Linked DNA regions of Homo sapiens: region 1 is reported to be linked to region 2. Evidence: microRNA targets listed by miRTarBase, many of them from high-throughput screens and not tested one by one. Region 2 holds a microRNA gene; the other region holds the end of a gene's coding sequence.
What was found. The annotated mature microRNA hsa-miR-6758-3p reads ACUCAUUCUCCUCUGUCCAG and lies in region 2 at 2,818-2,837, opposite strand. An mRNA with a match to its seed (bases 2 to 7 or 8) in the 3' UTR can be bound and repressed. Matches are read on the target gene's strand: a 7mer-m8 pairs with bases 2 to 8, a 7mer-A1 pairs with bases 2 to 7 and ends in A, and an 8mer does both.

Region 1: the mRNA of CD300E is a reported target of hsa-miR-6758-3p. Seed matches in the 3' UTR shown: 7mer-m8 at 2,018-2,024.

Annotation. Positions count from the first base shown.
Region 1 is chr17:74,608,019-74,613,538 of GRCh38, reverse strand. CD300E (CD300e molecule) reads left to right here. Exons shown (of 4, transcript NM_181449.3): 4 at 766-3,654. The coding sequence ends at 886. The region is part of intron 3 of LOC101928343 (a long non-coding RNA gene); the gene reads right to left. Among named protein-coding and RNA genes, the nearest start is that of CD300E, 13 kb to the left of the region's middle.
Region 2 is chr12:57,510,568-57,515,567 of GRCh38, reverse strand. MIR6758 (microRNA 6758) reads right to left here and starts at 2,880; the gene lies at 2,818-2,880. It overlaps MARS1 (methionyl-tRNA synthetase 1), which reads right to left. Exons shown (of 21, transcript NM_004990.4): 12 at 3,700-3,870; 13 at 3,465-3,560; 14 at 3,215-3,332; 15 at 2,604-2,817; 16 at 717-848; 17 at 510-614; 18 at 232-418. It also overlaps the pseudogene LOC124903093.

The DNA.
Region 1 (5,520 bases), not on the chromosome of region 2:
GGGAGATGGGCCAGCTCCAGGCTGGGGTTTGAATCAGTTCTCTCTCCTCTCCCAAAGATATCCAGAAAGGGCTGTGATATTGCTGCTAGACCCTGAGGGGAGGGAACAAGGAGCTGGAGTGGAACAGTGAGAGTGGTGGCCGGGTGTGGTGGCTCACGCCTGCAATCCCAACAGTTTGGGAGGCCGAGGCGGTGGATCACTTGAGTCCAGGAGATTGAGACCAGCCTGGGCAACATGGTGAAACCCTGTCTCTACTACGAAATACAAAATTAGCCAGGTGTGGTGGTGCGCCTGTAGTCCCAGCTACTCAGGAGGCTGAGGTGGGAGAATCACTTGAGCCCAGGAAGTCAAGGCTGCAGTGAGCCATGATTGCACCACTGCACTCCAGCCTGGGTGACAGAGTGAGACTCTGTCTCAGAAAATAAAAAAAGCGAGAGTGGGGACTGGTTTTAAGAAGTCAGTTGATAAAGTGGAGGCTGTGAGTGGGACAGGGACAGAGAGGGTGCTGTGGAGCGCACTCCTGGAAGTGGGTCCCTCTTCTGTCTTCACTCCATCACCTCTCCTTGATGAGACCCCCCGGGCAGTCCTTGATGGAGGGAGAAGGAGGGATGGGGGCCACAGAAGGGGCTGCCCTGGCATAGGTCCTTTCCCTGGCTGCTCCTGGGTTATTTGGGCTCCAGAGTCAGAGCATGGGGAGAGGTGGGGAGAGAAGGGTCCTGGGGGTTCTCCCGGGGAAGTGACTCATTTTCACCGTGTCCACCACAGGTTCCGGCTCAGCAGCCCTCACTTCCTGCTCGTGGTCCTTCTGAAGCTGCCCCTGCTCCTGAGCATGCTGGGTGCTGTCTTCTGGGTGAACAGGCCTCAGTGGGCTCCTCCTGGAAGATAGAGCCAGGCTGACCCGAAGCCCTGCAGAGCCCCATCCCCAGGAGTGCCCCGTGCAGGGAGTCAACCTTTCAGACTGGATGCGAGAGACCTGTGGACTCTGGAGGGATTTATTGTTCCTGTGCCTCAAAGGAGGGTCCTGGCTCTTAGAGGACACTCCTCTGGAGTCCTCAATGTGCAGCTTGGGGGTCCTCCTTTCTCCTCCCCAGTCCCCTGCCTCCCTGCCCTCATGCCCACTTCCCAAGGGCAAGAATTCCCTGGAAGTTGGCCGGGCACCATAGCGAGTGCCTATAATCCCAGCTCAGGAGGCTGAGGCAGGAGGATCGGCTGAACGTAAGAGTTCCAGGCCAGCCTGGGCAACATAGAGAGCCCTGTCTCAGAGAGAGAGAGAGAGAGAGAGAGAGAGAGACAGAGAGAGAGAGAGAGAGAGAGCGAGAGAGAGAGAGAGAGAGAGAAAAGGACGGAGGAAGGGAGGGAAAAAATTTTCTGGAGGAGCCTGGCCCTTCATTCTTCTTGGCACAAATGCTTCTCAGGCCAGTTTCCCCCAGGGCAATAACTACCTCCTTCCTGCAGACAGGAGTCTCCCTGAGGACACACCCCTCACAGCCCCAGCCTTTAGGCTCACAGAGCTCCATCTCTTCTCTGGGACAACCCCAAGGGAGCTTGGTCCCGGCAGAGCTTGCTCATGCAGTTGCCCAGTGTCCCACATGCTCAGGGCTCCTCTCGTCTTCTGACGCCCCTTGGGTCTCCCTGGCTTTAAGGCCCCTTCTCTCCCTGTAACCAGGCAGTGTGTGGCTGGGCTCAGAACATCTCTGCCTGGGTGGGCCGTGGATGAGCTGCTCCAGGTTAAAGTTCTGGGGCGAGTTGAAACAGTAAAGGGAGAAGGAGCTGGTGGGTGCCCCTGATATCACTCCTGGAATTCCCCCACCTGGAGGTGTCCAATGCACAAGGTCAACAGAGTCAGTTCTGTCCACTTTAGAAGTCTGGCTGAGACCACCTGTTAGCAATTAACCTTTTCCACAGGCAGAGCAGATATCGTTTTTCAAAGACAGGATGGAGGGCACAGAGGTGAAGGATACTTGTCCACACTTGAAGTGCACAGTGCTATCACCACTACTGGTGACCCCTGGCTCGGGAATGAGCTCAGTTGGTTTTCTGAATGTTTGTCAATTACTCTGTTTCCCTAAAGTTTGTGGGGAGGACTCCCACAGTCTGCCACAAGCAAGCATCACCATCTCCACTTGCTACCTACATCTGGACCAGTGCTCCCCCTCTGCCCCCAGGCCTGAGCTCATCCTGAGCTAGTGATGCCAGTGTCCAGAGCACATGGAGTGACCCTCTGAGTGCCGAGTGCTTAGGCAGAGCTGCCGTGCTCTGAACTTGAGCTCTGGTGGGGCTCCCAGCTCCATCATGCATGGTGACTAGGGGAAAGATGGGGCTGGCCCAGGACTCATGCTGAAAGAGAAATTCAATCTAACAAGGCCCATATTAATTATATTAACCCGGGAAATATGATGATGAGCAAGAAAGGAGCTTATGATTCATTTTATGAGAAGGATAAGCTCCCAAGTCATTACAGCATAGGAAGAACTCTAGAGCCACAAGAGATGCTTCCTGATGTCAGGGGGTTGGTGAGGAGAATATCATGCCAAGCTGGCCAGGTCAGGGAAAGAAGGTGACATTCATGTTGATGTTGAAGGAGGTATAGGATTTCAGCGGAGCAGGGATGGAGCAACAGGGAGAGAGAGAGGACAGAGAAACAGCATAAGTGAAAGCAGAGAGGCGGGAAATAATCTTCATAACAATAGTCACTTATAGAAGACCTATCAGCAAATGGACTGTACTGTTCACATACAGATGCTCATGGTAGGATGTGTCTAAGATTCCAATGGAGTGAAATTTTCCTGTGGCAGGCCAGATGGAACTAATCTAGAAGAACTCAGGTGGTGGCAGGTTCAGGAGGCTTAGGACTCAACTCTTACTTAAACTTTGATTAGCTATGGTGGGATGGATTTGAGCAGAACAAGATGGGATTGCAGATGTGCTTTAGGAGGACTTGCCTAGCAGATGTAGCAAAGTCTGAAAGGAAGAATCTGGGAGTCCGGAGTCTTAAGCCTGGAAAACCAGAGGAATCGGGCATCATTGACAGAAGTAGGAAAGTCAAGAGCAGGCTTGGATGATGCAGAGCTTAGTTTTCTGTGTGTTTGGAATCATCAGGCAGAGAGGTCTAGCAGATAGCTAGAGATGTGGGTTAGCAGAGTGTTGAGGGCTGGAGAGGAATGTGTGTAGAGAGATTAACTGGAACCCAGCAAGAAGTGAAAACATGGAGGGAAGAGTTCAGAACCAAGGACAGAGCCCTCGGGGCACCTGCATTTAAAGACAAAGGGTAGGAGGAAGACATTGATCAAGGTGCTGGAGCAGAATCAAACAGGTGGAAGATGAGAAGTCAAGAGCCATGAATGTTTCAAGGAGGAGAGCAGAGCTAGAGAGGTGGAGGAGGACCGGGATTGAGAGGAGGCTATTGAACTTATCATTCACAAGGTCACTAATGAAGTTCAGAAGAGCAGATCAACAGAGCAATGACAGCAGAAGCCAGAAGAGAAGAGTTAAGAAAGAGTAGACAGATGGCAGACAGCAGGTGCAGGAGAAACAAACAGTGGCTTCTCCATGCTTTGAATTTTCCCTTCTCCCTTACTCCCTTTTTTTCCCCTATTCTTCCTTTCTTTTTTCCCTTTATTTACTCATTCATTCAATAAACTTTTATTGTGTGTCTATGGTGCATTGTTCTGGGCATTACAGATAAGGACTTAAACTATGCAGAGTCCCTACTCCTTTAGAAGGGAAGTCTAAGATGTAGACTAACAATAGCGATGCGGTGTGTTAGAATTTGTGTCAGGGTTCTGCACAGTGCTCTGTGGGGGCACAGAAGGGAGGCACTCCCATGAGGGCCAAGCGGAGAAGGAAAATTGAGGGCTTGAGTTATAAAAATAGGGCAGAAGACTGGGGGATGATTGTCCCAGACAATGGTAGGGAAGAGTCATAGAGCATGGTGGATACCAGGACCTTCAGGAGCTACGTTACCATTACCATGTGTGCAGAGTGCATGTGAGGGAGGAGTGAGATATGGGGCTGGAGCCTCAGTCTGAAAGGGCTTCATGGCAGACCAAGAAGTTTGAATTGTGTTCTGGAGGCCATAGGGAGCCCCTGGAGGTTTTAATTTTTGAAACTTTTATTTTGAAATGATTATAGGCTTAACATTGCAAATATAACATAGAGTCCTGTGAATCCTTCATCTAGTGTCTTTCAATGGTGATGTATTATATAACTGTAGGACAAGACCCAAACCAGGAAACCAGCATTGTTACAATACTGTTAGCTAGACTGCAGACTTTGTTCAGTTTTCACCGTTTTTAACATACATTGGTTTATGGATATGTTTGTGTAGAGTTCCATGCAATTTTACAGATCCAGGTAACTACCACCCCCGTCAAAATACAGAACCAATCCATCATCACAAGGATCTCCCTCATGCTGTCCCTTGTATTTGCACCCTTATCCCATTCCTGTCCCCTGGAAACCACTAATCTGTTCTCCATCTCTACAGTGTCATCCTTTTGAGGACAAATGAAATTATGCAGTATGTAATATTTTGAGATTGACTTTTTAATTCACTGAGCCTTGAGATCCATACAAGTGGTTGCACTTACCACAACCAATAGCTGATTCCTTCCTATTGCTCAGCAGGATTTCATTGCATGGGTGTAAAATAATTTGTTTAACCATTCACCCACTGAACCCAAACAAGACATGTCTGTGCAAGTAATGGCTGCTGGACTGTGACCTCTGAGTAAAGGATAGGTGTTTCAGGGCCTCATTTTTATTCTTGGGACCATATGGTGCCCCCAGCAGGCTTGGGAAGTGACCTTCTAAAGTGCACAGATGGGCCTGCAGGGATGCTGTGTGGGCCAGCTCCAGGCTGCCATTCAGAGGCAGAATCAACTCTGCTCTCTGGCCTTGTGACTGGGGACCAGGTGGCTTCACCCCTTCACGTCCCGCTATTCTTATATGTGACATGAAGGCGCTACATTATGATTCTTCCACAAGGCAGTTTAAAAACATGGCTGCAAATTTCTTGATACTCCTTCCATGAAGAGTTGTGGCTTAGGTCCCCTCCCCTTGGGTCTGGCTGGGTTGTGACTGTTTCAACTTGTGGACTAGAACAGTGTTTCTCAACATTTTTTCATTGTTATCCTAAGATAACAATGAATATCCCTAAAAAAAGAATATCCCTAAATATCTCCCCTCATGAAATGTTAATACCAAAGATGTATTGTACATCCATCCATTCACCTGTCTATCTATCTATCTATCTATCTATCTATCTATCTATCTATCTACCTACCTACCTATCTATCTATCTACCTATCTATCTATCTATCCATCCATCCATCTATATCTCTGTTTTGTATCTAGAAAGAGTAAAAATATTTTTCCACCCTGCAAGAACCAATATTTGCCCCCATGGGGAATGCAAGAGGGCCTCCGTATGGCTTCCAAGGCTAAGTCAGAAGAAACCCTGCAGCTCCCTCTTCAGTCTATTGAAACGCTTGCCCTCTGGAAGGTCTGCAGATATTCCCT
Region 2 (5,000 bases):
TATCTGTTTACCAGTTAGTTTTGTGTGCCAGGTTCTGGTTTCTGGCATGAAGAACAATGAAGATGTACAGATAATTCCGGACTTGTGAACGACTACCAAGGACTTTATATCAGAAACTTAGGAGTCCCATGACCAAAGTAACACTGGAGAGATGTTAGGTCTTCTCTCACCCACTCCAAAAGCTGCATGGCAAGAGTATCAATTTTAAGAGAGGCTGGCTCTTCCACCTACTGTGCCAATCTGGTGTCCTGCTGGTAAGGTACACAGGAAGTTTGTCAGCAGGATACTGCAGGCTGGAGGTGGGAGCTGCAGCTGGGCCTGGATTGTGGCACTAACCGTGGGCATGTAAGGCTGAAGCATGACAGAGAGCAAGGCAGCTATATTCACTGCCAAGCCAGTCACTGTTCCTGCCCGTTGCCTGAGGAAGAGGAGACATTAGTCAAGACCTCCAGGAGGATACAGCTTACAAGCCACTTTATGCCTTTAGCCAACCCTCCCCGCTTACCTACCTGTCAGCCTCACTGCCTTTAATCCGCTTCCAGGGCTCATTCACCTGAATATATTGGTTGCCATGTCGAGATATGGTGAGGATACTGCGCAAGGCATCCCGGATCCTGGGAAGGGAGGAAGCAGGCCAAGGTGTAATGTCCTACAGAGACCAATACAAGGAGGCTCTCAACATGCCAGCAGAAAAGACAGAGGTGTCAGTTACTTACCGAACCTTCTCAAGTAGCTGGTGATAGTGCTGGAGCTCCAGGGTGACATGGGCCAGCAGGCGCTGATCATCAGGGGTGAGCACCATCTCAGGCACATAGCCCCCAAAGAACTTAGACACAAACATCCCAGCTCTTGGTTGGGAGTAGGAAAGCAGAAGTGGAAAAAAGAGGGGAAGTTATTATCCCGTCTCCTTGTTAGAATTTCACCCAATTTCCACAGCTGTACATTCTCTCAGGATTCCTGCCTGGAACAGGTAACTCCTGGCTCCCTCAAGCTAGTAGACAAGGCCTAATTATTTACTCTTTCTCTCCCCTAAGAATCTGACTCTGCACATAAGAAACCTGATTAAGTTAAACAACTGTACCTCTTATTTTTAAGAAGTCATTACTCGGCCGGGCGCAGTGGCTCACGCCTAAAATCCCAGCACTCTGGGAGGCCGAGGTGGGCAGATCACCTGAGGTCAGAAGTTCAAGACCAGCCTGGCCTGGCCATGGTGAAACCTCGTCTCTACTAAAAATGCAAAAAATTAGCCGGGCGTGGTGGTGTGCACCTGTAATCCCAGCTACTCTGGAGGCTGAGGCAGGAGAATTGCTTGAACCCGGGAGGCGGAGGTTGCAGTGAGCCAAGATCGCGCCACTGCACTCCAGCCTGGGCAACAAGAGAGAAACTCCATCTCAAAAAAAAAAAAAAAAAGTCATTACTCAAAATGACCAAGCTGAGTATGTGTTAACTGCTATCAAACAAACACTCTAGGCAAGTACTTTTTTTTTTTTTTAATTTTTTTTTTTTTTGAGGATTCTCACTCTGTTGCCCAGGCTGGAGCACAGTGGCATGATCTTGGCTCACTGCAACCTTTGCCTCCCGGGTTCAAGTGATTCTCCTGCCTCAACCTCTTGAGTAGCTGGGATTACAGATGTGCGCCACCACGCCCGGCTACTTTTTGTATTTTTAGTGGAGACGGGGTTTCACCAGGTTGGCCAGGCTGGTCTCGAACTCCTGTAGGTAAGGACTATTTATTAAATGTGGTTAATTACCAAAGCTGAAAGTGAGTAGCAGGACTGACCTATAAGGGTCCAGGGCTCAGAGAGTGTGACTAAAGAATCCTAAATTCTGGAGAATACTGCTTTAGATTGCAGAAGAGCTGAGATAGGCACCAATGATAGAATGTGAGCCTAAGGTAACAAAAACTCTGAACTCTGAAGAGTATAGCAGAAGCCTTTTTTTTTTTTTTTTTTTGAGACAGGATCTCCCTCTTTTGCCAAGGCTGGAGTGTAGGGGTACGAGTACTGCTCCACTGCAGCCTCAATCTCCCAAGTTCAAGAGACCATCCCGCCTCAGCATCCTGAGTGGCTGGGACTACAGGTGTGCGCCACCACGCCTGGCTGATTCTTTTTGTAGAGATGGGAGATTCATTATGTTGGTCAGGCAAGTCTTGAACTCCCGGCCTCAAGTGATCCTCCTGCCTCAGCCTCCCAAAGTGCTGGGATTACAAATGTAAGCCACCATGCCCAGCCCACAGAAGCCTCCTACCCCCACACCAAAATAACCCCTTTCTTCAGCCAAACTTTTCAATGATCTGCAGGTGAACTATTTTGCTGGGAGAGAATACATCTTCAATTCTACAAAGAACAGTAATAAGGAAACAATTTACAAAAACCCACTTTATAACCAACTTTGCTAAATCACATCTCTACAGCTAACTGTTCCATCAAGCACACATAGCCTAGTATGTGCTAGGAACAGATCCCAATTAATAGAAATCAACTTTCCACAGTGTCCTCACAGCCTCCTGCCCATTTTCTAGTTCTCTCCACATTCCCATCTCCTGAGGGAAAATGAGCCCCACCCCAGCTCACTGCTAACTCTGACCCCTTACCAAGTCCTACCTGTTGATGAAGTTGCCCAGGTTGTTAAGCAGCTCAGAATTATTCTTCAGCAGCAGGTCCGTCCAGGAGAAAGCACTGTCCTGGCCCTCAGGCCGAATGTACAGCAGATAGAAGCGCCAGATGTCAGCAGGGATCCCCGTGTCCTGGGCCATGTCCCCAAACACTCCCACACCGCGGCTCTTAGAGAATTTCCCATCCTCATAGTTCAGGTACTCTGGACAGAGGAGAATGAGTGAGAACCATCTGCTCACATCACATCCTTCCCCTCTCTAGCCCACTAACTCTTCCTTCTTTCCTCTTTCTAACCTCAACTATGGGTGTCTAGCAACATTTCTCCTTAAGGGGCTGGTATGCTCAGATTTTGGGAGTCCCTTCCTATCCATTCTGGCCCTTTTTTCTCTTTGCTTATATCTACTAAAGAGTTTTAGCTTTAGACTTTTGCTTTCTTCAGGTTCTTGTTCGTTTCTCTAGGTTGAGTTCTCATTTTAATTATTTCCTATTTCAGCTCAACTCCTAACTCAAGATAGCAGCTCTCCAAGATCTTTTTCCAAGTACTGCCTCACCCCTCATTTCCTATGAACACCCCATCAGTAGTCTTCCAGGGTACTTACCTGTAGCAATGAGGTGGCTGACCAAGGTATAGTTATCCTCAGCTCCTAGGGCTGAGCAAGGAAAGACTAAGCTATGGAAAGGAACATTGTCTTTGGCCATGAACTGATACAGGTCCACCTAGGGGAATGTGGTTAGGAGAGATTTCCTGAGACCTCCTTCAAAGGCCCAAGGAAGACCAGACACCCAACCCTAACACCCACACCCTACCGCCTACCCTCCCCATGCACAGCCTAACCAAGAACTGCTCACTTGCTCTGGGTTCTTCCACCATCTCTCCCACTGGTCTGTGTAGTTGGCTGTGATGGACAGATAGCCAATAGTGGCATCAAACCAGACATAGAATACCTGGAGGTCAGAAGGAGGTAAACATGTTAGGGACCAATCCAAAGTCTCAAACTGAAACAAGACATAATCAGCAGTCTACTCTGCTAGCCCAGGGTTTCAACACTAAGGCTGAATGATATGAATAAAAAAGGGTTTTTACCTTGTCTTCAAAACCTTCTAAGGGTACAGGGGTTCCCCATTTGAGGTCTCGGGTTATGCAGCGTGGCTTGAGGCCATCCCGAAGCCAAGAACGGGTGATAAACTGGGCATTGGGTGTCCAGTCACTGCCAGGCAATGTCCTCCCCAACCACTCCTCCAGTCGCTTCTCCAGCTGAGATAACGGAGAAAGAGGGCTGATTTAGGAAAGTCTCATATATGGTTAGCATAAGGATAAACACATATAACCTTTTTGGAGCACAATTTGGCAATATATAACTTTTTTTTTGGAGACAGAGTCTTGCTCTGTTGCCCAGACTAGAGTGCAGTGGTGCAATCATAATCACAGCTCACTGCAGCCTAAACCTCCTGGGCTCAAGCAATCCTCCTACCTCAACCTCCCCAGTAGCTGGGACCACAGGTGCACACCACCATGCCAGACTGTAATTTTTGTAGAAACAGGGTTTTGCCACATTGCCCAGGCTGGTCTTGAACTCCTGAGCTCAAGCAATCTGCCCACCTCAGCCTCCAAAAGCGCTGAGACTACAGTTGTGAGCCACCCTGCCCAGCCTTAACTAGATTTTTAACACACAGCCAGGGGCAGTGGCTTGCGCCTGTAATCCCAGCTACTCCGAAGGCTGACGCAGGAGGATCACTTGAGGGCAGGAGTTCATGACCATCCTGGGCAACACAGCAAAATCCTGTCCCTAAAAAAAATTTTTTTTTTTTTAATTTTTAAAAATATGGAACACTTCACAAGTTTGCATGTCATTCTTGTGCAGAGGATGTGCTAATCTTGTCCATATCAGGGTCTCACTGTCACCCAGGCTGGAGTACAGTGGCACATCATGGCTCACTGCAGCCTCAACCTCCCAGGCTTAAGTGATCCTTCCACCTCAGCCTCCTGAGTAGCTGGCACTACAGGCACGTGCCACCACACCTGGTTAATTTTTGTATTTTTAGTAGAGATGGGTTTCACCAAGTTGCCCACCCTGGTCTCAAACTCCTGGGGTCAAGCAATTCTCCCGCCTCAGCCTCCCAAAGTGTTGGAAGTTGGAATTACAGGCATAAGCCACCGTGCCCAACCAATTTTTTCTTTTTTTAAATACAGACAGGGTCTTGCTTTGTTGCCCAGGCTACTCTCAAACTCCTGGCTTCCAGCGATCCTCCTGCCTCAGCCTCCCAAAGTGCTGGAATTACAGGCATGAACCACCATGGCCAGCTGAGGAAGTGCAAAAAAGAAAAAAAAAATTTTCTTTTTTTTTTTTAAGGTAGGGTGTCACTCTGTTGCCCAGGCTGGTCTTA